Regions from separate parts of the Homo sapiens genome. Here all the other regions are linked to region 2. Evidence: fine-mapped expression QTL. A gene starts in region 2. Each other region holds a variant in brackets. All regions are shown on one strand. Distances are between the middles of the regions.

Region 1 (8,103 bases), 430 kb before region 2:
TGTCAGTGCCACCGCGGCACCTGGGGCCCTCCCAGAGATTCTAATTTGAGAGGTGTGGGAGAGGTGTGGCCCAGGATTTGGGACATTTTGGGAGATTTAAAAGCTTGAGAGCTAGTGATTTAGGGAAAAAAGGCAACTGTCAAAATGAGGAACTGCCTTGTATCACTAAACAAAAACAACAACTATGAATCATACTGTTGCTAAACTCAACCTTAAAGCATCGAGAAACCACACAAATATATAAGGCATTCCTATATTTCTGGAATTGACTTCAAATGTATTTTTTCTTTTCTTTTCTTTTTTTTCTGAGAGGGAGTTTCACTCTTGTCACCCAGGCTGGAGTCTAATGGCACGATCTCGGCTCACTGCAACCTCCACTTCCTGGGTTAAAGTGATTCTCCTGCCTCAGCCTCCCAGGTAGCTGGGACTACAGGCATGCACCACTACACCTGGCTATTTTGCGCGCACGCGCGTGTGTGTGTGTGTGTGTGTGTGTGTATTTTTAATAGAGATGGGGTTTCACTGCGTTGGCAAGGCTAGTCTCGAACTCCTGCCCTCAGGTGAGGAGAGAGGAGAAGAGAGGCTTATTTAGCACTCATGCATGAAGTATGTTCTGAGCACCTTTCCTGGTTCAGGTGTTGTGCTAAAGACACTAGGGATACAGCACGGGGCATGAACGGGGCTCCTGCTCTAACAGCTTGTTTTAGTGCAGGGAGACAAAACAAAGCAAATAAGAGAATTTCAGGTAGTGAAAAAGACTCTGAAGATAGTAAAAAAGGATATGATACAGAGAGAGATTTAACTTATATGGCCTACTTCCCATGGGAAGACAAATCTATCTGCATGCCTTCCCTCCTGTTTCTAGTCATATAATTTTTTTTTAATGCCTCCTGGAAGTTGTCTATTTGAAACTAGCAACTGCTGTACTGAGCATCCATGAATAAAGACACCGTCAGCAGCTGTGACTATGCTAGCCAATCTGACTTAAAACATCTGACAGGGAACCAGCAGCCCCCAGTACAATGCTGTCAGTGCCACCGCAGTACCTGGGGCCCTCCCAGAGATTCTCATTTGAGAAGTGTGGCAAAGGTGTGGCCCAGGATTTGGGACATTTTGGGAGATTTAAAAGCTTGAGAGCTAGTGATTTAGGGAAAAAAGAAAAGGCAACTGTCAAAATGAGGAACTGCCTTGTATCACTAAACAAAAACTAACAACTATGTATCATACTGTTGCTAAACTCAACCTTAAAGCATCGAGAAACCTTCTACACTTATTGACAGTTTATAAACAATAGTTTGTTTACCTATACTACAAAGGATCCTTAAAAAACAGGTAAATATTGTATTGATCCATTTTCTATGGCACACGCCAATGTCAATCATTTAATCAATAACCCAATCCCCAATATTTTTTTTCTTTTGAGAAAGGGTCTCGCTTTGTCACCCAGGCTAGAATGCAGTGGCACAATCTTGGTTCACTGCAGCCTGGACTTCCTGAGCTCAGGCGATTCCTCCCACCTCAGCCCCACAAAGTAGCTGGGACTACAGGTGCACACCACCATGCCTGGTTAATTTTTTTTTTTTTTGTAGCGATGGGGTTTTGTTGTGTTGTCCAGGCTGGTCTCAAACTCCTAAGCTCAAGCAATTCACCTGCTTCAGCCTCTCGAAGTGCTAGGATTACAGGCATGGGCCACTGCAGCCGGCCTCCCAATCAGCAATTTTGATAGCACTGTTTCTTTTTTTTTTTTTTAAAGACAGAGTCTTGCTCTGTTGCCCAGGCTGGAGTACAGTGGTGCGATCTCAGCTCACTGCAACCTCTGCCTCCCAAGCTTCAAGCAATCTCCTGCCTCAGCTTCCTGGGTAGCTGGGATTACAAGCATCCACCACCACACCCGACTAATTTTTTGTATTTTTGGTAGAGACAGGGGTTTCACCATGTTGGTCAGGCTGGTCTCAAACTCCTGACCTCAAGTGATCCACCAGCCTCGGCCTCCCAAAGTGCTGGGATTATAGGCATGAGCCACCGCGCCCAGCCTTGATAGCACTGTTTCAATTCTGAGAACAATCCCATATTCTGACAATCAGAGGAGCTCCTTAAGATCTGGGGCCCAATTAAATAATGGTTTAATTAGGTATTCCTGGCTGAGTGTGGTGGCTTGTGCCTGCATGCCTGTAATCTCAACACTTTGAGAGGCCGAGGCCAGAGGATAGCTTGAGCCCAGGAGTTCCAGATCAGCCTGGGCAACGTGGCAAAACCCCACCTCTACAAAATACAGAAAGTAAAAAAAAAAAAAAAAAAAAAAAAAGCTGGGTATGGTGGCATGCACCTGTAGTCTCAGCAACCCAGGAGGTTAAGGTGAGAGCATCACTTGAGCCCAGGGAGGTAGAGGCTGCAGTGAGCCACAATCACACCACTGCACTCCAGCCTGAGCAACAGAGCAAGACCCTGTCTTTTTTTTTTTTTTTTTTTGAGATGGAGTTTCGCTCTTGTCACCCAGGCTGGAGTGATCTCGGCTCACTGCAACCTCTGCCTCTCAGGTTCAAGCGAATCTCCCACCTCTGCCTCCTGAGTAGCTGGGATTACAGGTGCCCACCACCATGACCGGCTAATTTTTTTGTATTTTTAGTAGAGATGGGTTTCACCATATTGGCCAAGCTGGCCTCGAACTCCTGGCCTCAGGTGATCTGCCCGTCTCAACCTCCCAACATGCTGGGATTACAGGCGTGAGCCACCCTGCCCAGCCAATCCCATCTTAAAAAGAAAAAAATAATAATACAGAAAAAAGCATTATATAAGATGAACCATATAATTTTAAAATTGTAATAGGTGTACACCGTATTTGCCTATTTTGCAGAAAAAATTTTAAAGCAATTTCAAAAACTGTCAAGTAGAGGAAAGAGAACCAGAGTTCTTCAAAATCCCAGTTCTAATTCTAGCTTCTTCACTTACAAATGAGAGGATTTAGGGGAGCAAGTTCATGTCAGTTTCCTTATTAACCTCATCTGCCCTGCCTACCTTCTAGACAACTGTGAGAAGCAAATGGACTCCTCCTAAGAGAAGGCAAAGGCCCAGGAGAGGTGATCCAGATGCCTTCTGGTTGTG[T/C]TGGGCAACTGTCTGACTTTAGCAGCCCAGCCATTCACGAATCACATTCAAATCCCACTTAAAACCCAAGCCCTTGTGGCAAGAACGAGCATCTTTTATACCTGATACTTGGATAGATGTGTCAATAAATCTGCTGCCTCTGAGGGTGTGTTCATGTTACTGATCAGCTTCCTCCATGACTCAATTTTCCACCTGAAGAGATTAACTCTCTCTAGAGTAAGCTAACGCTGACAGCCCTGCTGTGCCTCTGCCCCTGGGACTGACTGCCAGCCGAAGATGCAGGGCTCCCCTGACTTACAGAACACATTTGTTCCACCAAAACAAGATGCCAAATGAGTCTCATCTCCCACCAAATTCCTGGTCCATCCCCAAAACCCAATGGAAGGGCCCTGAGGGCTAGACACACTCCCCACAGGTAGCTATCCCTGGCCTGACACTAGGAAATACCTGGCTGGTGGCCACCAACCACCTCTCAGCCCCGGGCGGGCCCTGCTGCCCTCCTAGTTCCTGGCAGCATCACTCAGCCCTGCACCTTGGAGCTCTGTCACCTCCCACACTCTCAGGAGACCTCAGCTGGCCCAGGATCCTTCCAAGGTCCACCTCAGAAGCACTTCTGACACGCTGGCTGGGTTTGGCTTTTCTTTTTTTTAACAATATATTTTCCCACATCTTTGAGTTTTCAAAAGTAGACCCATGTAGGACTCCCTTTTCAGATGCCTCCTTCTTACCAAAACACTCTCCTTTGTGTGTACATGTCTGGTGTAAGTGCACATGTGTCTGTGTGTGCGCATGCTTCAGCTCTATTCCCAGAGCTGGGCAAGCAGGGCTGAGGCCATGACAACTCTGGTTCACCCCTGAGGTTCCCTTGTTATGAAGACAGCTTCCGTAGAGAGTCCTCTGAGGGCCCACTGTGCCTGGGGACTTCCTGGACATACTCATGAAACAGCGCACAAGAAAGCTTTCAAATTCTACCAAGTCCCCATTGGGTTTAAGAATGAGGCCGGGCGCGATGGCTCACGCCTGTAATTCCAGCACTTTGGGAGGCCGAGGCGGGTGGATCATGAGGTCAGGAGATCAAGACCATCATGGCTAACACGGTGAAACCCCATCTCTACAAAAAACACAAAAAAAAATTAGCCGGGCGCAGTGGCGGGCGCCTGTAGTCCCAGCTACTCAGGAGGCTGAGGCAGGAGAACGGCGTGAACCCAGGAAGCGGAGCTTGCAGTGAGCCAAGATAGCGCCACTGCAGTCCAGCCTGGGCGAAAGAGCGAGACTCCGTCTCAAAAAAAAAAAAAAAAAAAAAAAAAAAATGAATGGCTGATAACCGTGGATAGCCTTGCCATTCCACTCCCTGAGAAATCCTGTTTCCCCTTAGATTCTTGCCAGGCCACTCGAGAGTGGAGGCATGGCCCGAAGGCCTGGCGGACAGCAGCAGCAGCTGTTGGGGTGATGCCGCAGGACAATGATCACGGCCACTGCTCCATGAAGTCCTGGGCAGGCTGCTTGACACTCTGGCCTTCCCAGCTGCACAGTATCAAACCAAATTTGGATCCATCTCTAGCCACTGTATACAATCCTGGCTTTTCTTTCTCACCTCTGTTTTCCTTTTGCCCCAATTTCTTCTGGTATCTATTGAATCCTGTGGCATTGCATGTGTTTTATAAGCCAACTCAAATCCTTTCTAGTAATCACTTGGCAAACCCTTGCCGGGTGGGGTGTGAGAGGAGCAGCCTCAGCACAAGGGGCTCTCAGCCCAGAGGACCAGTAGCCCAAAGGAATCCCTGTCATTTCTCTGGGAGCAGACTTGAAGCATACTACAGCCAGGGCCAGCGGCGTCAGCAAGACAGGAGGGGCCATGAGGAGAGCCAAGAAGACCCGGCTGCAGGCAGCAGCCCCCACCTGGTACAAAGCCCACCACTGCTTACTTTGGTTTCAGAACCCAAGTTGGTTCTGATTCACTTGAGTGAATCAGAAAGCAATGAAGATTTCTATTCTGCCTGCCTTCCTTTTTCTTTTTTTTTCTTTTTTTTTTTTTTTGAGAACGGGAATGCTGGGCAGTTAAACTCCCACCAAGAACTGCAAGGTACCAGGCAACTCGGGACTTGCTCAGGGAGCATCAAGACAGCTGTAGCTCTGGCTCCGCAGACTCAGCAAGGGGGCTGAGAACACCAAGCTGAGCATTCCTTCCTTCCCTTACCCACCCTCAACAGAGGCCAGCCAAGGCAGAAGATCTGGCCCCTGGCCTTAGAGTGTCCTTGGTGAGAGGACAGCAGCAATCTTTCTTTCCATTCCTTGACTCAGGAATGCTTTTCTCATCCCCATCTGCCTCCCTTTGATGTAGGTTCCGTCTACCCCAAGAACTTCTGTAATTTCTCCAAAGCCTTTTGACACTGTGGCCAGTTCTGCAGAACAGAACAGGAAATGGTGGAAAGAGCCCGGGGGGCGGGTAACATGTGGGCTGCTCACCCCCACCAGGTTGCAGTTCAGGCCAGCTGCCATCTCTGCGTGATCTTAGGCAAATCCCTCAACCCCCTGGGCCTGAGGGTCCTCCTTTGGGCTGCGCAGCTTCTGCCCACACACAACTGTCCTGAGCACTGACTACATGCCAGGATCATGTGAGGGCAGCCAACACGGGTAAGCCTTAAGAGGAGCCAGCCTTGGGAGGGCAGCTGGTGTGTCTGAAATTACAAGACCACCAAGTAAACATGAGTGCCAGAGGCTAGGCATGGTGGCTCACGCCTGTAATCCCAGCACTTTGGGAGGCCGAGCTGGGCAGATCACTTGAGGTCAGGGGTTCAAGACCTGGCCAACATGATGAAACCTCATCTCTACTAAAAATACAAAAATTAGCCAGGCATGGTGACATGTGCCTGTAATCCCAGCTACTCAGATGGCTGAGGAAGAATAGCTTGAAGCCAGCTAGGCGGAGGTTGCAGTGAGCCCAGATCACCCCACTACACTCTAGCCTGGCCAACAGAGTGAGACTCCATCTCAAAAAAAAAAAAAAAAAAAACCATGAGCGCCAGGTGAGGCCGAACAGCTGACGGCTATAAGCACTGTCCATGCCCTGACAACTTCCAAAGTGTGCCTGCAGCCCAGAATTCTCCCCCCAACTCCAGACTTCTCAGACCTTCTTGACACCTCCACTTGCGTGTCTAGGAGACACTTCGATGTGTCCTGAACTCAACCCCTCCACTAACCTACTGCACCCACAGCCGCCCTCATCTCAGATGATGGCAGCTCTGCCTCCAGCTGCTCTGCTCCCAGCCCTCAGAGTCATCCTCAGCTCCCCTCTCACTCTGCCCAGTCCTCTAGCAAGGTCTGTCAGGTCATCTTTAAAACATACCCAGAATCGTCCAGGTGCGGTGGCTCACACCTGTAATCCCAGCACTTTGGGAGGCCAAGGTGGGCGGATCACGGGGTCAGGAGATCAAGACCATCCTGGCTAACATGATGAAACCTCATCTCTACTAAAAATACAAAAAATTAGCCGGGCGTGGTGGCGGGCGCCTGTAGTCCCAGCTACTTGGGAGGCTGAGGCAGGAGAATGGCGTGAACCCGGGAGGCAGAGCTTGCAGTAAGCGGAGATCGTGCCACTGCACTCCAGCCTGGGTGACAGTGCAAGATTCTGTCTCAAAAAAAAAAAAAAAAAAAAAAAAAAAACATACCCAGAACCTGGCTACTGCCCAGATTTCTGCAGCCCTGCCAGGTCCAGACCCCCACCATCTCCCACCTGGATGGGGACAGTGGCCTCCTGACCTGGCTCCCTGCTCCCACCTTGCCCATACACACCCCAAGGGATCCTCCTAACCCTCATCTTCCCCCATCTCACTGTGAGTGAAAGTCAAAGAAATTTCTGACATAAACCCAGAAGGCCCAGCACCGGGCCACTGAGTGCATGGTCTGCAAGGTAAGCACAGTGAAAGTGTTTCAAAAGCTCCTAGCAATGACATCGGCACAACATCTAAACATGGACACAAAAGGACCCGTCTGGATGGACTAGGAATTCAAGGAATGCTCCCAACCAGACAGAGTTGAGAGGCCCTGCCCCACACCTCCTCCAGGCCCACCTCTGCCACGCTCCACCCCCACATACTGGCCATGCTCCGTCACTCATCGCCACCTCACTGGCTGCCTTTTCTCAAACACCCTGAGCACACTCCCACCTCAGGGCCTTTGCACAGCTGCCCTTCTGCCTGGAAGGCTCTTTCCAACCTCCACAAGGCTCACCCTCACACTCCTTCAATCCTTGATCCATTCATACTGCAAGCCACCCTCTCTTACCTCCCCAAAGACACTCAAGCAAGACTGTTTTTGTTTTGCTGTTTTCCAGAGCGCTCATTACATAACATGCTGAATAATTTATATTGTGTTTTTCTTTCCCATTACCATATAAGCTCCACGAGGGCAAGGGGCTCTGTTCTGTGCTCAGTGCCTGGTGCCCCATGGGAACTCAATAAATACAGAGCAGAGGGCAGGTAGACCAGGCTTCAAAAGGAAAGCCCAGAGCTGTGCCTGCAGGCAGACGTCAGCAGGCCTGGGAAGGTCTGGAATGCTTCCGCCGGAACAGGAGGACCCCCAGACTGAGGGCAGGGGACACAGCTGGTGGAAGCAACTGAGGTCTGCAACGTCAAAGGCTCTGGGATGGCCCTGCAGGGCCTGGCATCTAAAGGGGCTGAGACTCAGGACCAGGGCATCCTTTATGAAGATGGAGGGTAGGTGAGACTGGGAGATAATGACAGCAGGAAATTGGTCAGAAGGCTGGCACTGAATTGAGGCCATGGAACAAGATGGACAATTCAAGAGACTTCCAAGGTCAGATCTACAGATCTATGTGGGAGGTGAGAGAGAGGGAGGGGCACAGGGAGGATGAGATGACATATGGCACATGAAAGAAAGCTCTCCTCAGACATCCTCATGATTATCGCCAGTCACACAAGAGGCCTTCCCGGCTGTGGCTGCTCTCATGTGAAGAGGGCTTCTGAGCAGTCTGCCTCCTCT
Region 2 (8,103 bases):
CAAGGAACCACTCAACAGAAGCTTGAACAGCCCCAGGGTCTGATGCCCACATCCGCTGAGGGCCCATCATTCCAAATTCTTCCTTAGAACATGCTGTGGCCAGGCGCCGTGGCTCATGCCTATAATCCCAGCAAATTGGGAGAGCGAGGCAGGCGGATTACCTGAGGTCAGAAGTTCAAGACCAGTCTGGCCAACATGGTGAAACCTCATTTCTACTAAAAATGCAAAAATTAGCTAGGCCTGGTGGCACACACCTGTAGTCCCAGCTACTCACGAGGCTGAGGCAGGTGAATCGCTTGAACCTGGGAGGCGGAGGTTGCAGTGAGTAGAGACTGCACCACTGCACGCCAGCCTGGGTGACAGAGCAAGACTGTCTCAAAACAAACAAACAAACAAACAAAAGAACATGCTGAGATTCCTCTTCCTGCAGCTTCTGCCCACTGGTTCTTGTACTCTCCTTAGAGATTTATGGGAAACATCAAATTCCTTTTCCACAGGATGGCCTCCAAACTATTTCAAGATAGCTCTCCTGCCTTTGTATATTTTTTCCAGGATATTTCCTGAAGTCTTTCCTTATCTCTCATGGTTTAAAATGGCCTGCAACACCCTGCATGTGGTCTCTGACGTTCTAGACTTCAGATATAGGCTTCTATATAGAATCCTAACCTAAGACCACCCTCAAAATGACATGGTGGAGTGGACTGGGGAGCATCCACTTGGAAATGACTATCAACATAGTCATGTTTTGTGACTATTCACTTCACAAGTTATTCAAACATAAGGGCTGTTTATTTTTCTTTTTTTTCTTTTTTTTTTTTTTAAGATGGAGTTTCACTCTTGTTGCCCAGGCTGGAGAGCAATGGCGCGATTGCGGCTCACTATAACCTCCGCCTCCCCGGTTCAAGCGATTCTCCTGCCTCAGCCTCCTGAGTAGCTGGGATTACAGGCATGCGCCACCACACCCGTCTAATTTTGTATTTTTAGTAGAGACAGGGTTTCTCCATGTTGGTCAGGCTGGTCTCAAACTCCCAAGCTCAGGTAATCCACCCGCCTCAGCCTCCTAAAGTGCTGGGATTACAGGCATGAGCCACTGCGCCCGGCCATAATGCCTGCTTGTAGTTTTAGTTCTCCTTTCTCCTGTTGGTAATTAAGGCTGTGTTCTTTACCAAGCTTCAAGAAAAGAGTTATAAAGACTATCCTCAAAAACATAATAATCATCGAGATGGGGCTGGCAGGAGGCTTGTTAGCACAAGGTTTTAGTGTGAAATGAGAACACTCCCTTATTTTCCCCATGAGCTATAACTGCTTTATGTTTATTCTAAATTTACTCTAGAATGTGTGAGAATTATTTATAACATGTATGAAAACACACCGTTTTCAGAGAATCTTAGCACCTTTTAAAGAGCAAATCATACTCCTCTTTTGAATAAGATTTTAGAATGTTAAGTCTCATGAATGAAGAAACCACACTGAGAGATCATTTCCTTTGGACAGACTAGCAGTCATTTCAAAACCACTCACCCACATTTCAGATGGGGAAGACTCACATTGAAGTGTGTTGTCTTCCCTCTAAAGCATCTACTGTGTAAATACCTTCTACTTAAAGATGGCTGAAGTAGGAGTGTGAAGAGTTGGGTTTGCCTTCCAGCTACTAGGCCATGTGGACATCACTTGTCCTTGCTGGGCCTCAGCCTTTACCTTCCAGACAAGAGATATAACCTTGGTAAAAAGATTTCCCCATCAGAATTTAAGGTCCAGGCAGCAGAGACTATTTTTTACCATGATATTCTCTGCTGTATACCCTGTGCAGCTGCCACACGGTAGAGGCTAAACAAATGATTGCTGAATAATGCCTGACTTCAATGAGTCACAATGATTAACAAATGAAATTGAAAGATGAACTAAAAGGCATCATAAAGTATAAAAACCGGCCAGGCGCAGTGCCTCAGGCCTGTAATCCCAGCACTTTGGGAGGCCAAGGTGGACGGATCACCTGAGGTCAGGAGTTCGAGACCAGCCTGGTCAACAAGGCGAAACCCCTACTAAAAAATACAAAAATGAGCCAGGTGTGGTGGCATGCACCTGTAACCCCAGCTACTTGCGCAGCTGAGGCAGGAGAATCGCTTGAACTTGGGAGGCAGAGGTTGCAGTGAGCTGAGATCGCGCCACTACACTCCAACCTGGGCAACAGAGCAAGACTCTGTGTCAAAAAATTAAAAAGTATAAAAATTTATGTTTATTGGATGGGCATGGTGGCTCACGCTTGTAATCCCAGCACTTTGGGAGGCCAAGGCAGGCAGATCACAAGGTCAGGAGTTTGAGACCAACCTGACAAACGTGGTGACACCCTGTCTCTACTAAAAATACAAAAAATTAGCCGGGCGTGGTGGCGCATGCCTGTAATCCCAGCTACTCAGGAGGCTGAGGCAGGAGAATCGCTTGAACCCGGGAGGCAGAGGTTGCAGTGAGCTGAGATCGCGCCACTGCTCTCCAGCCCGGGAGACAGAGCAAGACTCTGCAAAAAAAATAAAAATAAAAAAACTTATTATGTATGTTTATTAGTGATGTGCCTCACTCCAAGGAAATCTGTTTTTAATATCAATATTGATGAGAATTTGAAGGGCAAATTCTAAACCGAATTACTCTTCCACTCCTGTATGATCCCAGGCTCTGCTTATCTCTCCAACACAATGTTAACTCATGCCTAACATCTGAGTGTTCACAATGCTTATGACAACCCAGTGAAGCAAGCACTAGAATGAGACCCATTTTAGACAGGGAAGCTAGGTTTCCAGATGAAGAAACTTACTCAAGGCTGCAAAGCCTCTAAGCAGCAAAAATAGCTCGGTCTCAGCATGATTTGTAGTAGTTAGTCCTATGCAACAGTGGGCTGCACAGCCTGTCTCTCAACCCACACAGAAAACGACTTGGCACCCCGCTGAATTCTGCATACAGAGAGCAAAATAGGACAAATACCCAGATTTTGAAAAATGTCTATTGTAAACATGCCTTGTTTGGAAAACAATTTATATAATAGTGCCAAAGAAAGAAAACAGAAGTTTGATTCGGTATTTCCACTTCGGGTAATTATCCCAAGGAAATAAGGAAAAAGCTATATGCTCAGTGATGGTGGTCAACATAAGACTTTTCAAAGAACAAGTACACCAGACCTGTGTAAAGGTTCCATAATAAAGTAATTAAGTAAAACACAGAATAGAAATTCAATAAATATTCAACACGACGCAAAAGTATCTATGAATGACTTTAAGTGGAACGAGCTCAAATCACAACTGAGTAATAATGGTACACACGAGGGCAGCAGGAAAGGAATATGGACAAAAAGGATATGCTTTAGTGGGGTTCAATAATGTGGGTGAATTATTTCTATTTGTGCAATTAAATTTTTTAAACACTAGAGATCACACCTCAAGCCCCAAAGCCCCATTCCGCATTTTCATACTCCTTTCAAAAGCTAAACACCCAAACGGAGCCAACATTAACATAAGAGAAAAATTATTATCATCAAGCAGAATACTTAAAAATTTCATCACGGTTCCCCCTCAATCTCTGCTGGGGTGAGTTCTGAGTTGGATAAAATCATCCTTTAGGAGGTGAGAGATATATTCGTAACTAGCAAAGCCAGGTAAATTAAAATCAGGGGCTCCGTGTCAGCTTAGGGACGGAGAATGGCTGGGTCTGGGCTTGCTTTCAGGGCTGCTCACCACAGGTCCCATCATCAGGGTTCGACTCCCCAGCGGCGCCTCAGGGAGAGGAGAGAGCCCAGGCACCGGACGCCCGTCCCCCGCCCCCGCCGACCCCTGGCGGGAGAGGAAGAAGGGAGGGAAAAATGGAAGGGCCGCGGGCGCGAGATCGCCCCAGTGAGCCCCCAAGCAGCCACCACCCAGGGACCCCGACCCGTCCGCCTGCCGGCGCCGCGGGCTCCCCGCCCCTTGCACCTGCGCCCCGCAATGCCGGAGCCAGCCAGCCCTCGCTGCCGCTCGCCACTGGCTCCCGCCCGCCTACCTGGCCCCGACCCCAGCCCCGGCCCCGCCGCAGCCTCAGCTGCAGAAGGAAGAAAGCGCCGGGTCTCCTGGCGGCCTCTCTAGGAGCAAAATGGCGACTCCATGCACAAGATTGGCGTCCGCGGTGACTGCGAGGCCGGTGGGCGGGGAGGGGCGAGGGCGGGACTAGAGCCCGGACAGCGGAGGCACCTAGCTGGGGGCTGTGGGCGTGGCCCACCAGTGGGTAAGGCGCGGGGCAGTGGGTGTAGCCACAGGGGTGGAGTCGGGCTGGCACGATGGGCGGGGCGGTGGGCGGGGATGCGCCTGTTTTGGTCCCTGGGGAGCTGCTAGCCCCACACCAACTGTGACAGCCCAGGCAGGTTACAAGGAATGAATGTGGACAGAGTATGACATTTGGAATTACAAATACCTGGGTTCAAGCCTCCACTGGCCTGTAACCTTGGACAAGTCATTTCAACCCTCTGAGCTTGTTTCCTCATCTGAAAAACAAAGATAGCAGCACCCATTCCATAAGACTGTTGTGAGGATTAAATGAGACAATACGGCCAGACGCGGTGGTTCACGCCTGTAATTCCAGCACTTTGCGAGGCTGAGGCGGGCGGATCACGAGGTCAGGAGTTCGAGACCAGCCTGACCAACATGGTGAAACCCCCATCTCTACTAAAAATACAAAAAAAAAAAATTAGCCAGGCGTGGTGGTGCGCGCCTGTAATCCCAGCTACTCAGGAGGCTGAGGCAGGAGAATCGCTTGAACCCGGGAGGCAGAGGTTGCAGTGAGCCGAGATCGCGCCACTGCTCTCCAGCCTGGGTGACAGAGCAAGAGTCCATCTCAAAAACAAAACAAAACAAAACAAAACTGTGCTAAAAGCACAGTTCTGGGTGTATAATAAATGATCAGTTTTTTGTTCGTTTGTTAGTTTTTTGTTTTGAGACGGAGTTTCGCTCTGTTGTCCAGGCTAGAGTGCATCGGCGCGATCTCAGCTCACTGCAAACTTCGTCTCCCGGGTTCAAGCGATTCTCCTGTCTCAGCCTCCCGAGTAGCTGGGATTACAGGTGTGCGCCACCACGCCCGACTAATTTTTTGTATTTTTAGTAGAGACAGGGTTTCACCATGTTGGCCAGGCTGTTCTCAAACTCCTGACCTCAAGTGATCCGCCCGCCTCCGCCTCCTAAAGTCCTGGGGTTACAGGCGTGAGCCATCGCGCCCAGCCATTATCAGTTATTATCGTTATTTGCCTTGTCGCCTTTTTTTCTTTTATTATAAAGGAATTAGTACTTTTGGTATCCATTGCCTAAGTTCTTTATAACTTAGGTAATGTTTACTCTTTATTGTATGTATAACATAATAATAGCAAACACATGGTCCTCTTTTAAGTGCTTTACATATATTAACGGTAACTTATTTAATCCTCACAAGAGCATAAGGTAGGTGTTGTTATCCTCTCCATTTTAATAGTTGTGGGAACTGAGACGACGACGTTAAATAACTTTTCCAATGACAAAGCAGTGGACAGAATTTCGACCCAGGAGGCTTTGCACCAGTCTTCACTTACCTAATCCCTATACCACATCTTCTCTCCAATTCTGCTTTGGATTTTTCACAATAATGAGGCATGAAATATTCATCAGAGGTTGCAGAGCTAGCTAGAGTCTTTATGGTTCAACGTCTTATTTTAGAAACGAAGAATACAAGCATCTCAACTAACGAATTGTAAATTAGGTGAGACTTCGTGAAATGGAGTCGTTTGAAACATTTCCTTTGCCTGACAACTTTACAGGGACATACCTCTTTGTAAAGAGCAAGACCCATGAGCCCAGTGATTATCTGCATACCAAAATTGATTCCTCTTCAGCGGTACCTCGGCTGGGCTCACGTCCCTTCTGCGCTGGCATCTAACTCCGGTCACAACCCCCACCTCTCTGCTGTGGCTGGCGTAGATTCCACGCGTCACATGTTGGCATGTGACTGGATCTGGCCAGTCAGAGAAGTTCATCCCTCTCCGCTCGCTGATTCGCTCCAAAGATAGGCTACTGAGCCAATCGGAGCCCACGAAACACCGTCTCCATCCCTGCGCCGGGACTGGAGAGGCTTACTCTCTCCTGCTGATGCTGCAGCTGCTGGGATGCCAGGAGGGGAACCGCCTGAGGAAAGTGCTGAGAGAAAAGAGAGGGAGGGATACAGACCGGGCCCAGATGAGTTTGCGCTGAATCTGAAGTCGGTAGGTCCCTGGACATTTCTATTATGGAAGCCAAGAAGAACCTCCCCTCCACCCTCTGAAGCCAGTGTGGATCGGGTTTCTGGCACTTGCAGTGTCTGCACGGTCTCCTCTCCTTCCTTCTCCATTGCCCTTTCTCACCCGCCTGGGCCCGCCACCCTGAACTACCGGGACACATGCTGTTCCTGCCTCCAGGCGTGCACTTCTTCCTGCAGCCTCCTCCCCTACTAACTCCTTCTTGAACTTGATAGCTCCATTGTCACTTTCGAGTCTTCCCTAAACCACTCCCTTCCCAAATAAAACTGTTTCATGTATTTTTCTTTCATTGGGCTTATCACGATTTCTAATTAAGTGTTTGGGTGGTTATTTGACAAATATCACCACCTCAGCCCCTGTACACTGTAAGCCCCATGAGGGTGGGCTCTTCGTCCCTCCTGCTGATCACTGTTTCCCAGGGCCTGGCACAAGTATGGTACTCAAGAAATGTCTGGAAAATTGAGTGCCTTATCCTTTCTGGAAAGAAAATGGGCAGTAGCGCAGCATTATATAGTGTTTGCACCATACAAGAATAATATTACTGGAAAAAAAAAAACTTTTCTAAGAGACAGAGTCTTGCTCTGTTGCCCAGGCTGGAGTGCAGTGGTGCAATCATAGCTCACTGCCGCCTCGAACTGGGCTCAAGTGATCCTCCCGCCTCGACCTCCAAAACGCTGGGATTGCAGTCATGAGCCACCACACCTGGCCTTGAATTTTTTAAAAAATCCACTCTCATTAACCAGAATGAGCTAGCTCCAGTGTATCACCGCGTCCAGGGTTCTGCAGTGGGGTGGCTTGCTCCTCAATAGTTTCCCGCACTGCAGGCACTTAGTTTGTAGTTTCATTTGTTCTGTTATAGCAATACCACTCTTCCATCCGCCATCCATTCTCCAAGGACTATTGAAATCCCTTGTAGGCTGATGTCAAAACTCTCATTCTCTTTATCCTTGGGGTTTAGGCCATAGGAGTGTGCCATGGTAGGTGTTCAGCCAAGCTGACCCACCAGGTGACTGCAGCCCCAGCCACCACCTGACTGCAACTTTATGAAAGACCCTAAGCAAGAGCCACCTAGCTAAGACCAATCAAACCACAAAAAATTGAGAGCTAAGAAATTTTTTATTAAAGCCCAAGTCTGGGCATATTTTGTTATACAATGGGTAATGAGCAAGAAAGGAGCAAAAGCATAATGTAAAGCTTGTGGTCAGTTCCACACGAATGCAGTTTTTGGTTAGTCCATTGCTAAACTTGATAATCCCTTGCCCACTTGGATGTTTGCAGTCAGAGTCTTTGCATGTAATAGAAGTGCTCAGCTTGCTGCAACACGTCATTGGCCATATTCAAGGGCTAAACTGCTGTATATCGACTATAAATCAAGATACTCAAGTCTAAGACATTTCCCTTCAACATTTTTTAAAGGAAGGAAAGGAATCTTTGCTATAGTTTGATAGAAATTTTTGAGCAGTATGGTGTAACAAAAAACACAGGATTCTCCTTCAAATGGTTGTGCAAATGAAAAAACAGGGACTTAGGTGTCCATCACTAGGATGGAGCCTGCTTCCTGCCTCCTGTCCTCATTGTGGAAATGACCCTGGACAGATCCACCTCTCTAAGTTTCTGTTTCCTCAGTGGAAAAATGAGCACTAATATTAGCAGCCATATGATGGTTGGGGGTGAGGAGTTACTTTTAGATGGAGTCCATGAGTATGAGGCACCGAGGAAGCTTTTGCAGCTGCCTCTCTGCTCTCGCCTGTCTGGCTATCAGGGAAGAAAAACAAGGCACCCCTTTTTCCCCAGTGGAAGAGGATGGCAGCTTGCCTGGCTGTAGGAGG
Region 3 (8,103 bases), 110 kb after region 2:
CCCTCCAGTTCCACTGGGTCTTCCCAATCTCACATTGGTTGCATATTGGCTTTCTTTTTTTTTTTTTTTTTTTTTTTTGAGACAGTCTCGCTCTGTTGCCCAGGCTGGAGTGCAGTGGCATGATCTCGGCTCACTGCAAGCTCTGCCTCCCGGCTTCACGCCCTTCTGCTGCCTCAGTAGCTGGGACTACAGGTGCCTGCCACTGCGCCTGGCTAATTTTTTTGTATTTTTAGTAGAGACGGGGTTTCACCGTGTTAGCCAGGATGGTCTCGATCTCCTGACCTCATGATCTGCTTGCCTCGGCCTCCCAAAGTGCTGGGATTACAGGCATGAGCCACCGCACCTAGCCCATATTGGCTTTCTTGCTGAAAGTTCACTTACCAGGGTTAGATGCTGCCCCAAGCAAGTGTTCATTTTCTGGGGCTTTGGACAAAGGAAGGGATGTGTGCTGAGTTTTGGCTGTCCAATAGACTTGTGAGGTCGCAGACTTGGAGCTGTGGTCTTTCTCAGGGGAAAAACACACATCTGTGATGTCTTGATTGAGCCCTGAAACACAGAAGACCAAGACAAGGTTGCTCTTGAAGCGGGTGTGTTGAGGAAAATGAGGTGGAGAGAAACTTTTTCATTTTTTCTTCCTTCTTTTAAAGATGTACAGAATGGACCAGAGCAGTTATGTCTGTTTTTATTTGGGGCCTCCAAACTTCTATGCAAAAATCTCAGAAAGCTTCCTGTTAGCTTTTCAGCACGCCCCCATTGTAAAATTTCTCGAGTTGTTTATACAAGCAGAGAGAGAGAGAGTCGAGGTCAGGAATTGCAACAGGGAATGCTCTTCGGAAGCTCAAGCTGAATTTTCTTCAATGATAGAAATAACCACCCTCGAGTCAAAATAGAACATTTAACTTTTTTTTGGTTTGTTTGTTTTTGGTTTTTGAGACTGAGTTTTGCTCTTATTGCCCAGGGTGGAGTGCAATGGCTCGGTCTTGGCTCACTGCAACCTCCGCCTCCTGGGTTCAAGTGATTCTCCTGCCTCAGCCTCCCAAGTAGCTGGGATTACAAGTGCATGACACCTGGCTATTTTTTGTATTTTTAGTAGAGATGGGGTTTCGCCATGTTGGCCAGGCTCGTCTCGAACTCCTGACTCCAGGTGATCCACCCGCCTCGGCCTCCAAATGTGCTGGGATTACAAGCGTGAGCCACTGCGCCCAACCAGAACATTTAATTTTTTAAGAGAGAATCTGCTCTAAGAAAAGAGAAGGTTGTTGGCCCGGCGTGATGGTTCATGCCTGTAATCCCAGCACTCTGGGAGGCTGAGGCAGGCGGATCACAAGGTCAGGAGATGGAGACCATCCGGGCTAACACGGTGAAACCCCGTCTCTATTAGAAATACAAAAAAAATTAGCCGGGCGTGGTGGCGGGCACCTGTAGTCCCAGCTACTCGGGAGGCTGAGGCAGGAGAATGGCGTGAACCCGGGAGGCGGAGCTTGCAGCAGTGAGCCAAGATCAGGCCACTGCACTCCAGCCTGGGCAACAGAGTGAGACTCTGTCTCAAAAAAAAAAAAAAAAAAAAGAAGGTTGCCACAACCTGTAATAGGACTTAACACAACTCCAGTGTAAATAGCCCATTCCTATGGTGAATGGGATGAAGTTTTGGAAGAGCACTGTGGAGCATTGCATCTGTGTGTACAAGCCAGGCCTTCCGCTGCTGGCAGCACTCACTCCAGAGTGGAAGGGGCCCAGGAGGGGATCCTGGTTTTCAGCCCACGTGGTGGGTGACCTAAGCAAAGTCAGATGCCCTGGACTTTGGTCTCCTTATGTAAATATTAAGGATATTAAGTCGGTTGATCTCCAGTCTAACTTACTGTTTTTGACACCCTAGGATTCACTGTGTCTTCATTCTATATTATCATTCTTCTATACCCCTGACACACCAAATAAATCAAGTGACATATATTGTGATCTAATTGTGTCCTAGGCCATCCAGCTTTAAAATTCTTTTGGATTCCACTAGTCTACAAATATGACCACCTGTCAGGTCGCACTGGTGACAGGAATTACACACCTTCAAGAGCTAAAACTCCAAAACGCCTCCATGTGACCACCCCCTCCCAGCTTTCTCCCACCTCTGCTTAAATCTGAGCTTCCCCATGTTGGACCTTCCACTCCTGGACCCCTCCAAAGCTCAATTCTCTTGCCTCCTGATACAGTTTGGATATTTGTCCCCTCCAAATCTCATGTTGAAATGTGACCCCCAGTGCTGGAAGTAAGGCTTGATGGGAGGTTTTTGGGTCATGGGGGCAGATTCCTCATGAATAGCTTGGTGCCCTTCCCACAGTAATGAGTGAGTTCTCGCTCTATTAATATAGTTCGAGCAAGAGCTGGCTGTTTAAAAGAAACTGACACCCCTCCCCTTCTCTTGCTACTTCTCTTGCCTCATGATACATTGATTTCCCTTGCATTCCACCATAAGTGGAAGCTTCCTGAAGCCCTCACCAGAAAGAGATGCTGGTGCCATGCTTCTGGTACAGTCTTCAGAACTGTGAGCCAAATAAAACTCTTTTCCTTAGAAATTTCCTTATAAATTACTTAGCCTCAGGTATTCCTTTATAGCAAAGCAAAACAGACACCACCCTTATTGTTTCTTCTGCTTCCCTGAACTATCTGGCCAAACACTTCCAAGATTCTCCAACACCCTAGGCCTGTGATTCTCAAAGACAGATCCCCAGACCAGCAACATCAGCACTAGCTGGAAACTTGTTAGAAATACAGAATCCCTGGTCGAGTGCAGTGGCTCACGCCTGTAATCCCAGCACTTTGGGAGGCCGAGGCAGGCGGATCACGAGGTCAGGAGTCCGAGACCAGCCTGGCCAGCATGGTGAAACCCCATCTCTACTAAAAAATACAAAAAAATTAGGACATGGTGGCACGCACCTGTAGTCCCAGCTACTTGGGAGGCTGAGGCAGGAGAATTGCTTGAACCCAGCAGGTGGAGGTTTCAGTGAGCCAAGATCGCACCACTGCACTCCAGCCTGGGTGACAGAGCGAGACTCCATCTCAAAAAAAAAAGAAAAGACATACAGAATCCTGGGCCCACCTCAGACCTGCTGAGTCCGAAGTTCTGGGGGAGGAGCTTGTTTTAACAGGTCCTGCTGGAGATCCTGATACAAGCCACAGCTGGAGAACTACCACCCTAGACTTATTTGGCCCTTAAGCTATCTCCAGCCTTGGAGAAACTCTACTTTAAGGTTTCATTTCATGGATAAGCAAGGAGCATGGTAGAGTGAATGAAAAAAAAAAAAAAAGCCCTAAGTTTTGACTTCTTGGTCTGGTTTCTGTGCAGGGCAGCTGAAGAGAAAAACAAAAGCTTCCCCTTTACAACCCTCTCGAGCTCAGTCCAATCCCTAAAGCAGGAACGACACCAGCATTAAGGGGTCAGGGGCAGGGACCAGCCATTTCTGGGCCTATGAGATGCAGAAATCCATGATAAATGCTTGTGAGTTAAAAGTTGTGTACTTCCTCCTGCATTGATCATTTTCAAGAAGGAAGTTACACTCAGTCATTTCTCCTTTGGTAAACAGGATCGGGTGTCAGGACAAGGTGTCAGTTCAAAAAACCTATGCTGAGTTCTGTGCAATCTCTGTCTACCTATGTTGTCTACAACTGCAGTTCCTTACAGATTTCTGAAGCCTTGCCTTCTGGTCTTCGGGGGCCCTCTAGTCTCTGCCTGTGGCCTTGTTTACCTGAGATATTGTTCTCCTCTCTCAGAAACAGGACTCTGATCACATTGGCAGCAGTGAGCAGTAATTTGGGGTTGCACATCTGCAGCAGTAAGAGAGTATAATTCGCCTTGGTCCACTGGGTGCTGTTCGCAAACCAGTACAAGATCTCTTTCATCTTCTGTTCTACTGTTTTATCCAACATTTGGTTCAAGGAGGACTTCACAACTTTCCCCTCTTTCTTGCTGAGGTTGATCCGGGACCTGTTATAGATGAAATCCTTTCCCTGTGTGGTCTGAAGGATATTTTGGAAATAGTGTAACAAATATAAGCTATTTAACTGCTTCAGAATGCCAACTAGAAACCTCCTCTGTGATATGTCATTGATCCTGCAGAACCACTCTTTGGTAGAGAAGATCTTCCAGGCTAAGACACACGTCTCACACTTCCGGCATAGAGGG[A/T]TGGAATCGGTTCCCTTCTCACAACGAAAATAGGGGGCATTCTTGAGCCTTGATTCCAGGTTTTCCATGATCCTAAGATAACCAGTCCATTTTAGCCCTGCGCACTTGCAACGGCAACGCCACCAAACACTAGAGGAACGGGGGGAATGAATAAATACCCCAGTTGTGCCTTTTCTATTACAAACGTCTCCCAGAGCAAAAGTAAATGGCTGCCATGGATGGAAAGCCTATCTCTCTCAGTAACTGCCAGCAGAAGTCTGGCTTTTTGTACAGACCTCCTTGGAAACATGGCTTTACCGTAAATCTCCTAAACCTGGCACTGCTTTATGTGGAGGCAGTTGCTGTATATTCTGAAAGAGCTGGTCATCTCATTTCTAGAACAACAAGAATACTGTTAGTCAAATTTAAGTAATATGTGGACTATTACTGGTATTGCACTTTAATTATTGTTGTTATATATGGCTTCTGAATATTCATGAATATAAAATAAGATGCAAACTTCTTATGTTTATATCTGTTCAGTTACAAACTGGCTATCCCAATGATGCTAAATATGTTTATATTCATTTTCTTAAGTCATCATCAAAGTAAAACCAGAAATGTTTAATGTAAATTTAAGTTATTTAACTGCTTCACAATACTAACCAGAAATCTCACTGTAGTCAAAGGGCCCAGGCAAAACATATTGGGCAGCTCACAGAAAGAGTTTCAAAGTCATGCTGAGATAATTCTCCTACTGCAGGTAAGACTCGGTTCAAACATTGACTCTGGTACTTAGGAGCTATATGGTCTCGAGCAGGCAACCTGTCCTCTCTGAGCCTCAGTGTCTCCATCCTAGTTATGAGGATGGAGAAGATAAAGGTGGGTAATAAAAATGATAACTACCTTCTAGGATTGCATTAAATATATGAGATCAGTTGTTGCTGCTATTGTTACTGTTACTAAGTATTATTACCCTAGATAAAATCAAAAGGTTTGCAATATTGTGTGCCTTTCTAATGCCCATGTTGAAAGACCAGGCACAACCAGAGAAAGGTAATGGAGTCCATCGCTGGGGTTTTGTTGGCAATGGCAGTCACATACTAGGGTCAGAATGGGGAATAAGAATCAGGTTAAGAATGAGATCAGTTCTCACAGCTCAACCTCTTCTGTCTGAAGAGGAATCTGGAGAAAAGGCATGAGTAGATTAATATTTAATTAATCGGGAAGGCCAGACAAAGGAGGGTGGCAAAGAGAAGGGAGGCCCGAAGCAGACTCTTTGGATCTGTAAGGCGAGCACGTTACCCTAAGAAGTGCTGCAAGCTAAAAGTAGCTCTTTTTTTTTTTTCGTAATTAACTTGTTTATTTATAATTGACAGATTATAAATAGCTTGTTTTTAAAGATTTAAATAAATTAGGATTTTAATCTATGAGGCTGACATTCTTCAAGGAAGCATTTTTTTTTTTTGGAGGCAGAGTCTCGCTCTATCCCCCAGGCTGGAGGGCAGTGGTGGCATCTCGGCTCACTGCAACCTCTGCTTCCCGGGTTAAAGTGATTCTCCTGCCTCAGCCTCCCGAGTAGCTGGGATTACAGGCATGGGCCACCATGCCCAGCTGAGTTTTATATTTTTAGTAGAGACGAGGTTTTGCCACGTTGGCCAGGCTGGTCTTAAACTCCTGACCTCAAGTGATCCGCCCGCCTCAGCCTCCCAAAGTGCTGGGATTACAGCGTGAGCCACCACCCCAGGCCAAGGAAGCAGTTTTAATCACCCAACTCAGTCTTTATTTCACATTTCAGGGCCACAAACTTGGGAGTCAGAGAGACTAGATTTCAGACATGAGTCTTATCCCCTCTCCCTCAACACTGCACACACACGGTTCTCCTCAAACACCTGTGGACCATAGTATGTTGTTGCCCCTCGGCACCTCCTTTTCTAAACAGCTTCTTTGAGAAGATGACAACGGGCTGCCTCCTGAGAATAGAGGGACAAGGGGTGCTCTAGAGCAAGTGAGTGCGAGAGGACAGCGCCTCACTCCCTTCCTCCCTGCCTCCTGCTGGCCTGCACCTTTCAGAGGTTGGGCCATACACCTGACTTTGGGGGGAAGTTGAAGCCATTTGGGATCTGATGTTACAGTTAAAAATGTGGCCTTAGGCCAGGCGCAGTGGCTCATGCCTGTAATCCCAGCACTTTGGGAGGCTGAGGCAGGCGGATCACGAGGTCAGGAGATCGAGACCATCCTGGCTAACACGGTGAAACCCCATCTCTACTAAAAAAAAAAATACAAAAAATTAGCCGGGTGTGGTGGCAGGCGCCTGTAGTTCCAGCTACTCGGGAGGCTGAGGCAGGAGAATTGCGTGAACCCAGGAGGCGGAGCTTGCAGTGAGCGGAGATGTGCCACTGCACTCCAGCCTGGGCGAGAGAGCAAGACTCTGTCTCAAAAAAAAAAAAAAAAAAAATGCGGCCTTGGCACAGGGCAGGATAGATGGGCCAGATGGGATAGGCCAATGCGGGGACATGGCGCCAGTGGTACTCAAACAGGCAGGTGGGCAAATAGGCCTCATCAGACCGACTCACAGGAGTCCAGTGGGGGAGAGCACTTCTCCGAGGAAGGCTATAGGATGCGAAGGACATCTGCGACCTCTCAAGTATTTAGGCTACGAGCAGCCTGGAGGCTTCATGCCAGTCCCCTATCTTTCCTTTCTGCCCTGTTTTATTCACGATCCCGATAAAACCTCCTCAGCACACAACCCTAAATCTGCACTTGCTTTTCCTGCCTTCCCACATAGTATGGAGAAGCTTGGAAGGTGCGGCCGCTGCTGGGCCAGATAGAGGACAATGTGTCACACCCATCCGGCTCTGATGTCACACTTGACACTGCACCAGAGGACCTGAGCCTCTGCTGGCTCCAGCCCAGCCCCTTTGCCTTCCCCTGCTGCCACCTGGCCTGGCCAGCCAGCAGGGACTCAGGAAAGCACACAGGTTTCAGAGTAGGAGGGCAAGGAATGAACTGGGCTCTGCCACGGAGCAGCTTCATATGCCTGAATAATTCACTTGCTAGTCTCAGCCTGCTCCTCTTCCATGAAGTAGAGACCATGGTCCTACCTAGCTCATAGGTGGCTGTCGGGGTCAAATGAGTAGACTTTTACACCATGTGAGGAGCTAACAATTATTATTAGTATCATTAGGGAGTGTGGAAAAAGTGTGATATCTCATCTCTCGCCTTCCCATCATGTGGTATTACACTTGTTGGAAGTTGAATTTTAAAAAGCTTGGCTGGGCGCGGTGGTTCACGCTTGTAATCCCAGTACTTTGGGAGGCCGAAGTGGGCGGCTCATGAGGTCAGGAGATCGAGACCATCCTGGCTAACACGGTGAAACCCCGTCTCTACTAAAAAATACAAAACATTAGCTGGGCGTGGTGGTGGGTGCCTGTAGTCCCAGCTACTCGGGAGGCTGAGGCAGGAGAATGGTGAGAACCCGGGAGGTGGAGCTTGCAGTGAGCCAAGATAGCACCACTGCACTCCAGCCTAGGCGACAGAGTGAGACTCCGTCTCAAAAAAAAAGAAAAAAAAATTTAAAAAGCTTTTGTTCATGAGAAACCAGCGCATGCACATATATACACACTTTCTTTCAGGTGATCATCAGGGTCACTACTTAAGTTATTAATGTGGGGGAAAGGTTTTTCACCTAAAATGACTGACCACTGCTATATTGACCCTTGGTCCTTATGAAATGATCTGTTCTCCCTCCTTTTCCAGTACTTGGACTACTTCCTTCTGGGAGACAGTGGGATTTTCCCAACAAGACTACAGAGCAAGCCAGAAATAGAGATTAAAAACTAGGCACATTCCAGCAAGGCAGGGATGGCCAACACTCTACCCGAGCCATGCACAGTCTGTGCCCTGCATGGACATATTGGGGGCATATCAACAGCAGGTTGCCCTGCAAG
Region 4 (8,103 bases), 25 kb before region 2:
GCCCATGCCTGTAATCCCAGCTACTCGGGAGGCTGAGGCAGGAGAATCGCTTGAACCTGGGAGGCGGAGGTTGTGATGAGCTGAGATTGCGCCACTGCACTCCAGCCTGGGCAACAAGAGCAAAACTCCGTCTCAAAAAAAAAAAAAAAAAAAAAAAAGAAGAAAAGAAAAATTATCATGTATGCAGAAAGACACAGGAAGAGACCATCAGAGTATAATTTGATATTCATGAATCAAATATTCATCACTGGAAAAATGATACAATTCCACATTTTCTTGCAAGGCAACAATCAAATGCTTTATGAAACTTAAGAAAGGAAGATCCCTACCAGTAGGTCAAACTGTGAAAAGGACTGCCTGACACATCCCCAGCAGTGCAGCGGAAGGCAACAGACACTGTCAGACGCCCTCAGAAGAGATGGCAAAAGTTGGCTGGGCGCGGTGGCTCACACCTGTAATCCCAGCACTTTGGGAGGCTGAGGCGGGCAGATCATTAGGTCAGGAGATTGAGACCATCCTGGTTAACACGGTGAAACCCCATCTCTACTAAAACTACAAAAAAATTAGCCAGGCGTGGTGGTAGGTGCCTGTAGTCCCAGCTACTGGGGAGGCTGAGGCCTAGGAGAATGGCGTGAACCCGGGAGGCGGAGCTTGCAGTAAGCTGAGATTGCGCCACTGCACTCCAGCCTGGGCGACAGAGTGAGACTCCGTCTCAAAAAAAAAAAAAAGTATAGATGGCAAAAATTTCAAGGCAACGAGCATCCTAGTACCAGAATGTTCCTTCTGACTCTGGCAGAAGGTGCTTAAATTCCAGTGACAAACACAAGAGATGGAGAAAGCGTCAGCATCAAAACCTGCAGAATAGGATCACTAAGTGACAAGAAGGCACAGTGCCACAGTATAATTAGCAGTGTTTTCTTCTTTCTTGGTGACGTAAAATAATGTAAGCCTGGACTGACAGCACCTTAGATTCAGTGAAACATGAATATCTATCCCCTGCTTTAAGAGGCTCTAACACACGAAAACAAAAGAGACAAGATACGTATACTATAAAAAGGCAATACAGGCCAGGTGTAGTAGCTCATGCCTGTAATACCAGGACTTTGGGAAGCTGAGGCAGGCAGATCACTGGAGTTCAGAAGTTCAAGACCAGCCTGGCCAACACGGTGAAACCCTATCTCTACTAAAAACACAAAAATTAGGCCAAGTGCGGTGGTTCACACCTGTAATCCCAGCACTTTGGGAGGCCAAGGTGGGCAGATCACCTGAGGTCAGGAGTTCGAGACCAGCCTGACCAACAAGGAGAAACCCTGTCTCTACTAAAAATACAAAATTAGCCGGGTGTGGTGGCACATGCCTGTAACCCCAGCTACTCGGGAGGCTGAGGCAGGACAATCACTTGAACCTGGGAGGGGGAGGTTGCTGTGAGCCGAGATCATGCCATTGCACTCCAGCCTGGGCAACAAGAGCGAAACTCCATCTCAAAAAAAAACAAAAAACAAAAATTAGCCAGATATGCTTGCTTGAACCCAGGAGGCGGAGGCTGCAGTAAGCCAAAATCGCACTCCAGCCTGAGTGACAGAGAGAGACTGTCTCCAAAAAAAAGAAAAAAGCAATACACAAAAATTCCTTTTTAACACTGAGTTCCCACATATTAATTTTTTTTTTTTTTTTTTTTTTTTTTGTGAGAAGGAATCTCACTCTGTCGCCCAGATCACGGCTTGATGCAGCCTCGACCACCTGGGCAACTTCAACCTCCCAGGCTCAAGCAATCCTCCCACTTCTCATCCTCTTGAGTAGGGGGGACCACAGGAATGCACCACCACACCTGGTTAATTTTTATATTTTTTGTAGAGACAGGGTTTTGCCATATTGCCGAGGATGGTCTTAAACTCCTGGACTCAACTGATCCAACCTCCTCAGCCTCTCAAAGTGCTGGGATTATAGGTGTGGGCCACCACACTCAGCCCTGACTTCTTCTCAACAATGAAACTAAAATGGGGATTTTTTCAAGTAGAAGGCAGTGTCATCCTCAGGTAGAAGCCTGCACTACAGGCAATGACTAGCGTTAGGCTTCCAGCCTGACCTTGCAACCAGCACAAGGGTGCCCCAGCCTTCGTTCTTTAGGCTCACCCACCGGGCATCCCTTAAGAGGTGCAATTGCCATTTGTGCCTTGAGACATTGGCACACAACATGCCTGTGTCCTGAATGGAAACATCCCCTAAAACAACAAGATGTCGACAGCAACCCACATAAGTCTATAGCGACTGCTCTATTTCTTCCAAAATGACAGGTTTCTCCATGCGGCTGGTTGCTAACTGAACCACGTTCAATGCTCACCCTCTCACTCTCTCTCTGCCTAAACCTCTTCATCCTTCCCTATCAAGACATTTGCCAATTTTATCTCACCTTCTCTCTCAACTAAGAATAATATTCAGGTAAAATTAGGCCAGGCACAGTGGCTCACACCTGTAATCACACTGTTTTGGGAGGCTGAGGCAGGAGGATCGCTTGAGGCCAGGAGTTTGAGACCAGCCTGGGTAACACAGCAAGATTCTGACTCTGGAAATATTTTTTAAAAATTAGCTAGGTGTGGTGGCACACCTCTAGTCTCAGCTACTCAGAAGGCTGAGGTGGGAGAAATCTCTTGAGCCCAGGAGTTCAAGGTTGCAGTGAGCTATCATGGCACTACAGCACTCCAACCTGGGTGACAGAGAAAGACCCTGTCTCAAAAAAAAAACATAAAATTTTTCAGGTAAAATTAAAGTCTCTATTATTTTTTTAATTTGTTAGAGTATTTTTGTTTTCTTTTTTGTTTTTTTGAGATAGTCTCGCTCTGTCACCCAGGCAGGAGTGCCGTGGCACAATCCTGGCTCACTGTAACCTCCACCTCCCAGGTTCAAGCAATTCTCCTGCCTCAGCCTCCCAAGTAACTGGGATTACAGGCACGCGCCACCACATCCAGCTAATTATGTATTTTTAGTAGAGATGGGGTTTCACCATGTTGGCTAGGCTGGTCTGAACTCCTGACCTCAAGTGATCCACCCGCCTCAGACTCCCAAAGTGCTGGGATTATAGGCGTGAGCCACTGCGCCTGGCGTAGAGTTTTTATGTTTCTTGTGTGTAACTTTAAAGAAAAAAAAAAAGCAGAATATTTTACATTTTTCTCTTTCAAAAATACTTAAATTCATTTTCTCTATAAGGACTTATAACAATTGCTGGAGAATGGGGAAGCCCTGTATTCTTACCAGAAAGAAGTTCCTCAGAAACCTATAAACTGCCATCTTTTAAATACAGTACTGTAAAAAGAAGTTATCTTCTTTTAAATACAGTACTGTAAAAAGAAGTTATCTAGAAAAGTTATTAAAGAGAGAAATAATTTATATAAGAAAAACCGCTAAGGCCAGGTGCGGTGGCTCATGCCTGTAATCCCAGCACTTTGGGAGGCCGAGGCAGGCAGATCACGAGGTCAGCGTTCGAGATCAGCCTGGCCAACATGGTGAAACCCCATCTCTACTAAAGATACAAAAAATTAGCCAGCTGTGTTGGCGCATGCCTGTAATCCCAGCTACTCGAGAATTGCTTGAACCCGGGAGGTGGAGGTTTCAGTGGGCTGAGATTGCGCCATTACACTCCAGCCTGGGAGTGACTCCATCACACCCCCCACCAAAAAAAAAAAAAAA[G/AG]AAAGAAAAACAGCTAAAAGCAAAATAGCTAAGTACAGTATAAATTAACATTTTAAAAGCTTTCTTAAATAGTAAGTCACAAAAATGCTAACTCATATCAAAGAAAAACAAATGTAGCTATATTAAAATTAAACATCTGATTTATCCCAGGATTCAAGGGTGGTAATAAACCACATTAACAGAATGAAGGAAAAAAAATGATCATCTCCACTGATACAGAAAAAGCATCTGACAGATTCAGCACCGCTTCAGGACAGTGGTTCCCTAGGGTGGAAGGAGGCAGGGGGATAGGACAGAGAAGGAGCCCATGAGCAGCTCTAAGTTATGATGATGACTCTAGTTTTCTTGCTGGGAGGTGGGATCATGGATGCTGGCTATTATAACTGGATGGACAGAGAGACAGGATGGATAGATGGATACATAAAACAGAACCAGGATCAAGCATAGACTAGTAATGAGAGTAAATTACTCATTACAATCATATCTAGTCCAATTCTAGGTACTTGAGGTCCAAAAGAAAAAGCAATTTTAAGAGCTTATCTAAAGAAACAAACTGCAGATTCAGAATTCTAAAATGCGTTGGATTATAGCTATAAAGTATAATGGTACTTTAAGTACAATACATCAAGTTTTAATCCTTTAGGGGTATCCTAAGGAAATGGAAATACATCTTTCAACCTTAATCAGAATGTTAAAATAAAAAAGTTTGAGCTAGCTCACCTCTTCTTGAATATACTGTAATAAGAAGGGAGATGCTCTTAAATTGTCAACAGGAATATTGAAGAAGCCCTGAATTTCCTTCTGGTGTAAATCCATAGTAATAAGATGAGTTAGACCTTTGAAAATAAAGCAGACACAAGCAATAAATAGTTTTGTTTTTGTTTTTTTTTTTTAAGATGGGATCCCATTCTGTCACCCAGGCTGGAGTGCAGTGGCATGACCATAGCTAACTGCAGCCTTGAACTCCTAGGCTGAAGCAATCCTCTCACCTCAGCCTTGAAAGTAGCTGGGAATACAGGTGCATGCCACCACGCCCAGATAATTCTGTATTTTTAGTAGAGAAGGGGTTTCATCATATTGGCCAGGTTGGTCTCGAACTCCTGACCTCAAGTAATCCTCCTGCCTCAGCCTCCCAAAGTGCTGGGAATACAGGCATGAGCCACTGCACCCAGCCTATAAACAGTTTAAAAACAAGTTGCACTGTATAAAATAGGTACTACATAAAATACTATATACAATAAGTTACTATTAAAAAATTGCTCTCCAGCCGGGCACTGTGGCTCACGCCTGTAATCCCAGCACTTTGGGAGGGCGAGGTGGGTGGATCACAAGGTCAGGAGTTCAACGCCAGCCTGACCAATATGATGAAACCCCATCTTTACTAAAAATACAAAAATTAGCTGGGCGTGGTGGCGTGTGCCTGTAGTCCCAGCTACTTGGGAGGCTGAGGCAGAAGAATAGCTTGAATCCGGGAGGCAGAGGTTGCAGTGAGCCAAGATCATGCCACTGCACTCCAGCCTGGGTGACAGAGCAAGACTCCGTCTCAAAAAAAAAAAAAAAATTGCTCTCATGGCCGGGCACAGTGGCTCACGCCTGTAATCCTAGCACTTTGAAGGCCAAGGCTGACAAACTGCTTGAGCTCAGGAGTTTGAGATCAGCCTGGGGAACATGGCAAAACCCCGCCTCTACAAAACAAAAATTAGCCAGGCATGGTGGCGCACATCTGTAGTCCCAGATACTCAGGAGGCTAAGGTGGGAGAATCGCTTCAGTGCAGAAGGTCAAGGCTGCAAGTGAGCTGAGATTGAGCCACTGCATTCCAGTCTGGGTGACAGAGTGAGATCTTGCCTCAAAAAAATAAAAAATAAGGCCGGACACGGTGGCTCACGCCTGTAATCCCAGCACTTTGGGAGGCCGAGGCGGGTGGATCACCTGAGGTCAGGAGTTGGAGACCAGCCTGGCCAACATGGCGAAACCTCATCTCTACTAAAAACACAAAAATTAGCCAGGCATGGTGGCACGTGCCCATAATCCCAGCTACTCGGGAGGCTGAGGCAGGAGAATTCGCTTGAACCTGGGGGGGCGGAGGTTGCAGTGAGCCGAGATCGCACCACTTCACTCCGACCTGGGTGAAAGGGGGAGACTTGGTCTCAAAAAAAAAAAGACAAAATTGTTCTACCATCAAAAAAACTCAGCACTTGTATTTTTCAAAAAAAATTTTTTTTTTTTTAGTACTGTGAGATGCCTGATTTTCACATCAATTTAAAGTCTTGGTCAGGTGCGATGGCTCACAGCTGTAATCCCAGCACTTTGGAAGGCTGAGGCAGGCGGATCACCTGAGGTCAGGAGTTCAAGACCAGCCTGGCCAACACGGTGAAACCCCGTCTCTACTAAAAATACAAAAATTAGCCAAGTGTGGTGGCATGTGCCTGTAATCTCAGCTTCTAGGGAGGCTGAGGCAGGAGAATCACTTGAATCCAGGAGGTGGAGGTTGCAGTGAGCTGAGATCATGCCACTGCACTCCAGCCTGGGCGACAGAGCGAGACTCCATCTCGAAAAAATAAATAAATAAAAAATAGTCATAATATAGCAAAGATAACAGTAATACAGAAGAGTCTTTAAAAATTATATTAGAGCAGATCAAATCTTCTTGAAGTTTAACAGGCATGGCAAAGTCCAGTCTTAAGATAACAAGTCAGCCGGGTGTGGTGGCTCATGCCTGTAAACCCAGCACTTTGGGAGGCCGAGGCAGGAGTATCACTTGAGCCCAGGTGTTTGAAAATGGCCTGGGCCACATGGTGAGACTCCATTTCTACTAAAAATACAAAAAACTAGTCAGGTATGGTGATGCATGCCTGTAGTCCCTAGTTACTCTGGAAGCTAAGGTCGGAGGATCACTTGAACCCAGGAGGTCAAGGCTACCTCCTGGTAGTGAGCAGTGATCACACCACTGCACCCCAGCCCGGGCAAGAGGACTGAGACCCATGGGGAAAAAAAAAGATATCAAGACAAACTGCACCAGCCTGGAAATTGGAGAAAACAGAAAACCTTCACCACCTTTGTAACGATCACCAGAAAAGTGTAAGGAAAATTCAGTATGAAAAATTGTTTAAAGCATTACTTGCCCAAAAGAACAGGAAAGTAAGTCTGGAGGCCCATCAAGCAAGGCTGGTAGAGAAGATGGGCCCTTTCCTGAAGATTCAGCAGGCAAGCCTGCTCTCCTCACCAGCTGCCTGTCATAGTGTTTACAATGGGGTAGGCTCCTGAGGTTGCTTCGGGTTGAGTTTTTAATTTTATTTTTATTTTTTTGAGACGGAGTTTTGCTCTTGTTGCCCAGGCTGGAGTGCAACGGCATGATCTTGGTTCACCACAACCTCCACCTCCCGGGTTCAAGCAATTCTCCTGCCTCAGACTCCCGAGTAGCTGGGATTACAGGCATGTGTCACCACACCCGGCTAATTTTGTATTGTTAGTAGAGACGGGGTTTTTCCATGTTGGTTAGGCTGCTCTGAACTCCCAACCTCAGGTGATCGCCCCCTGGTTCTCCCAAAGTGCTGGGATTACAGGCGTGAGCCACCACACCCTGCCTAGTTTTTAAATGTTTGTTTTACGTTTGCCTTTACTGAAAAACTATCTTAGAAAGTTTATTCTGGGCTGGGCGTGGTGGCTCACGCCTGTAATCCCAACACTTTGGGAGGCTGAGGAAGGTGGATCACCTGAGGTCAAGAGTTCGAGACAAGCATGGCCAACATGGTGAAACCTCGTCTCTACTAAAAATACAAAAATTAGCCAGGCGTGGTGGTGGGCGCCAGTAATCCCAGCTACTCAGGAGGCTGAGGCAGGTGAATCGCTTAAACCCAGGAAGTGGAGGTTGCGGTGAGCCGAGATCACGCTACTGCACTCCAGCCTGGATGACAGGTGAGACTCAAAAATAAAAAATAAAAATAATAATAATTAGTTGGGCATGTTGGTGTGTGCCTGCAATCCCAGCTACTCTGGGGGCTGAGGCAGGAGAATTGCTTGAACCCGGGTGGTGGAGGTTGCAGTGAGCCAAGATCACGTCATTGCACTCCAGACTGGGCAACAGAGCAAGACTCCGTCTCAAAAAACAAACAAAAAAAAAGGTTTATTCTACAGTAAGTACCTGTCTTAAAATGCAGTGATATGGGGACTTTTATTCTATTCACTCTGTGCAAATGCTCCGTGATACATACCTTCTAAAATCATATACATTCAGGCTGGCTATGGTGGCTTGTGTCTGTAATCCCAGAATTTTAGGAGCCCAAAGCAGGTGGATCACTTGAGGTCAGGAGTTCGAGACCAGCCTGGCCAACATGGCAAAACCCCATCTCTACTAAAAATACAAAAATTAGCTGAGTGTGGTGGCAGGCACCTGTAGTCCCAGCTACTAGAGAAGCTAA

What was found. PIP is the estimated chance that this variant, and not a neighbour inherited with it, causes the effect.
Region 1: its variant is fine-mapped to the expression of PRPSAP2 in whole blood (TOPMed, PIP above 0.99).
Region 3: its variant is fine-mapped to the expression of PRPSAP2 in gastroesophageal junction (GTEx, PIP 0.98).
Region 4: its variant is fine-mapped to the expression of PRPSAP2 in skeletal muscle (FUSION, PIP 0.95).

The regions. Positions count from the first base shown.
Region 1 is chr17:19,287,737-19,295,839 of GRCh38, reverse strand. All of the region lies in intron 4 of EPN2 (epsin 2), which reads right to left. Among named protein-coding and RNA genes, the nearest start is that of EPN2-AS1, 14 kb to the left of the region's middle. RefSeq lists an enhancer at 5,627-6,220. The variant T/C (reference allele first, on the strand shown) is at 3,103.
Region 2 is chr17:18,854,182-18,862,284 of GRCh38, reverse strand. It overlaps PRPSAP2 (phosphoribosyl pyrophosphate synthetase associated protein 2), which reads right to left and starts at 4,154. Exons shown (of 12, transcript NM_002767.4): 1 at 4,024-4,154. RefSeq lists a silencer at 3,697-4,056 and enhancers at 3,803-4,375, 6,155-6,214, 6,235-6,284, 5,803-6,303.
Region 3 is chr17:18,740,384-18,748,486 of GRCh38, reverse strand. FBXW10 (F-box and WD repeat domain containing 10) reads right to left here and starts at 4,433. Exons shown (of 14, transcript NM_001267585.2): 1 at 3,738-4,433; 2 at 382-546. The coding sequence starts at 4,242. RefSeq lists an enhancer at 1,577-1,871. The variant A/T (reference allele first, on the strand shown) is at 4,175.
Region 4 is chr17:18,878,985-18,887,087 of GRCh38, reverse strand. It overlaps PRPSAP2 (phosphoribosyl pyrophosphate synthetase associated protein 2), which reads right to left. Exons shown (of 12, transcript NM_002767.4): 7 at 4,405-4,520. Among named protein-coding and RNA genes, the nearest start is that of PRPSAP2, 25 kb to the right of the region's middle. The variant G/AG (reference allele first, on the strand shown) is at 3,685.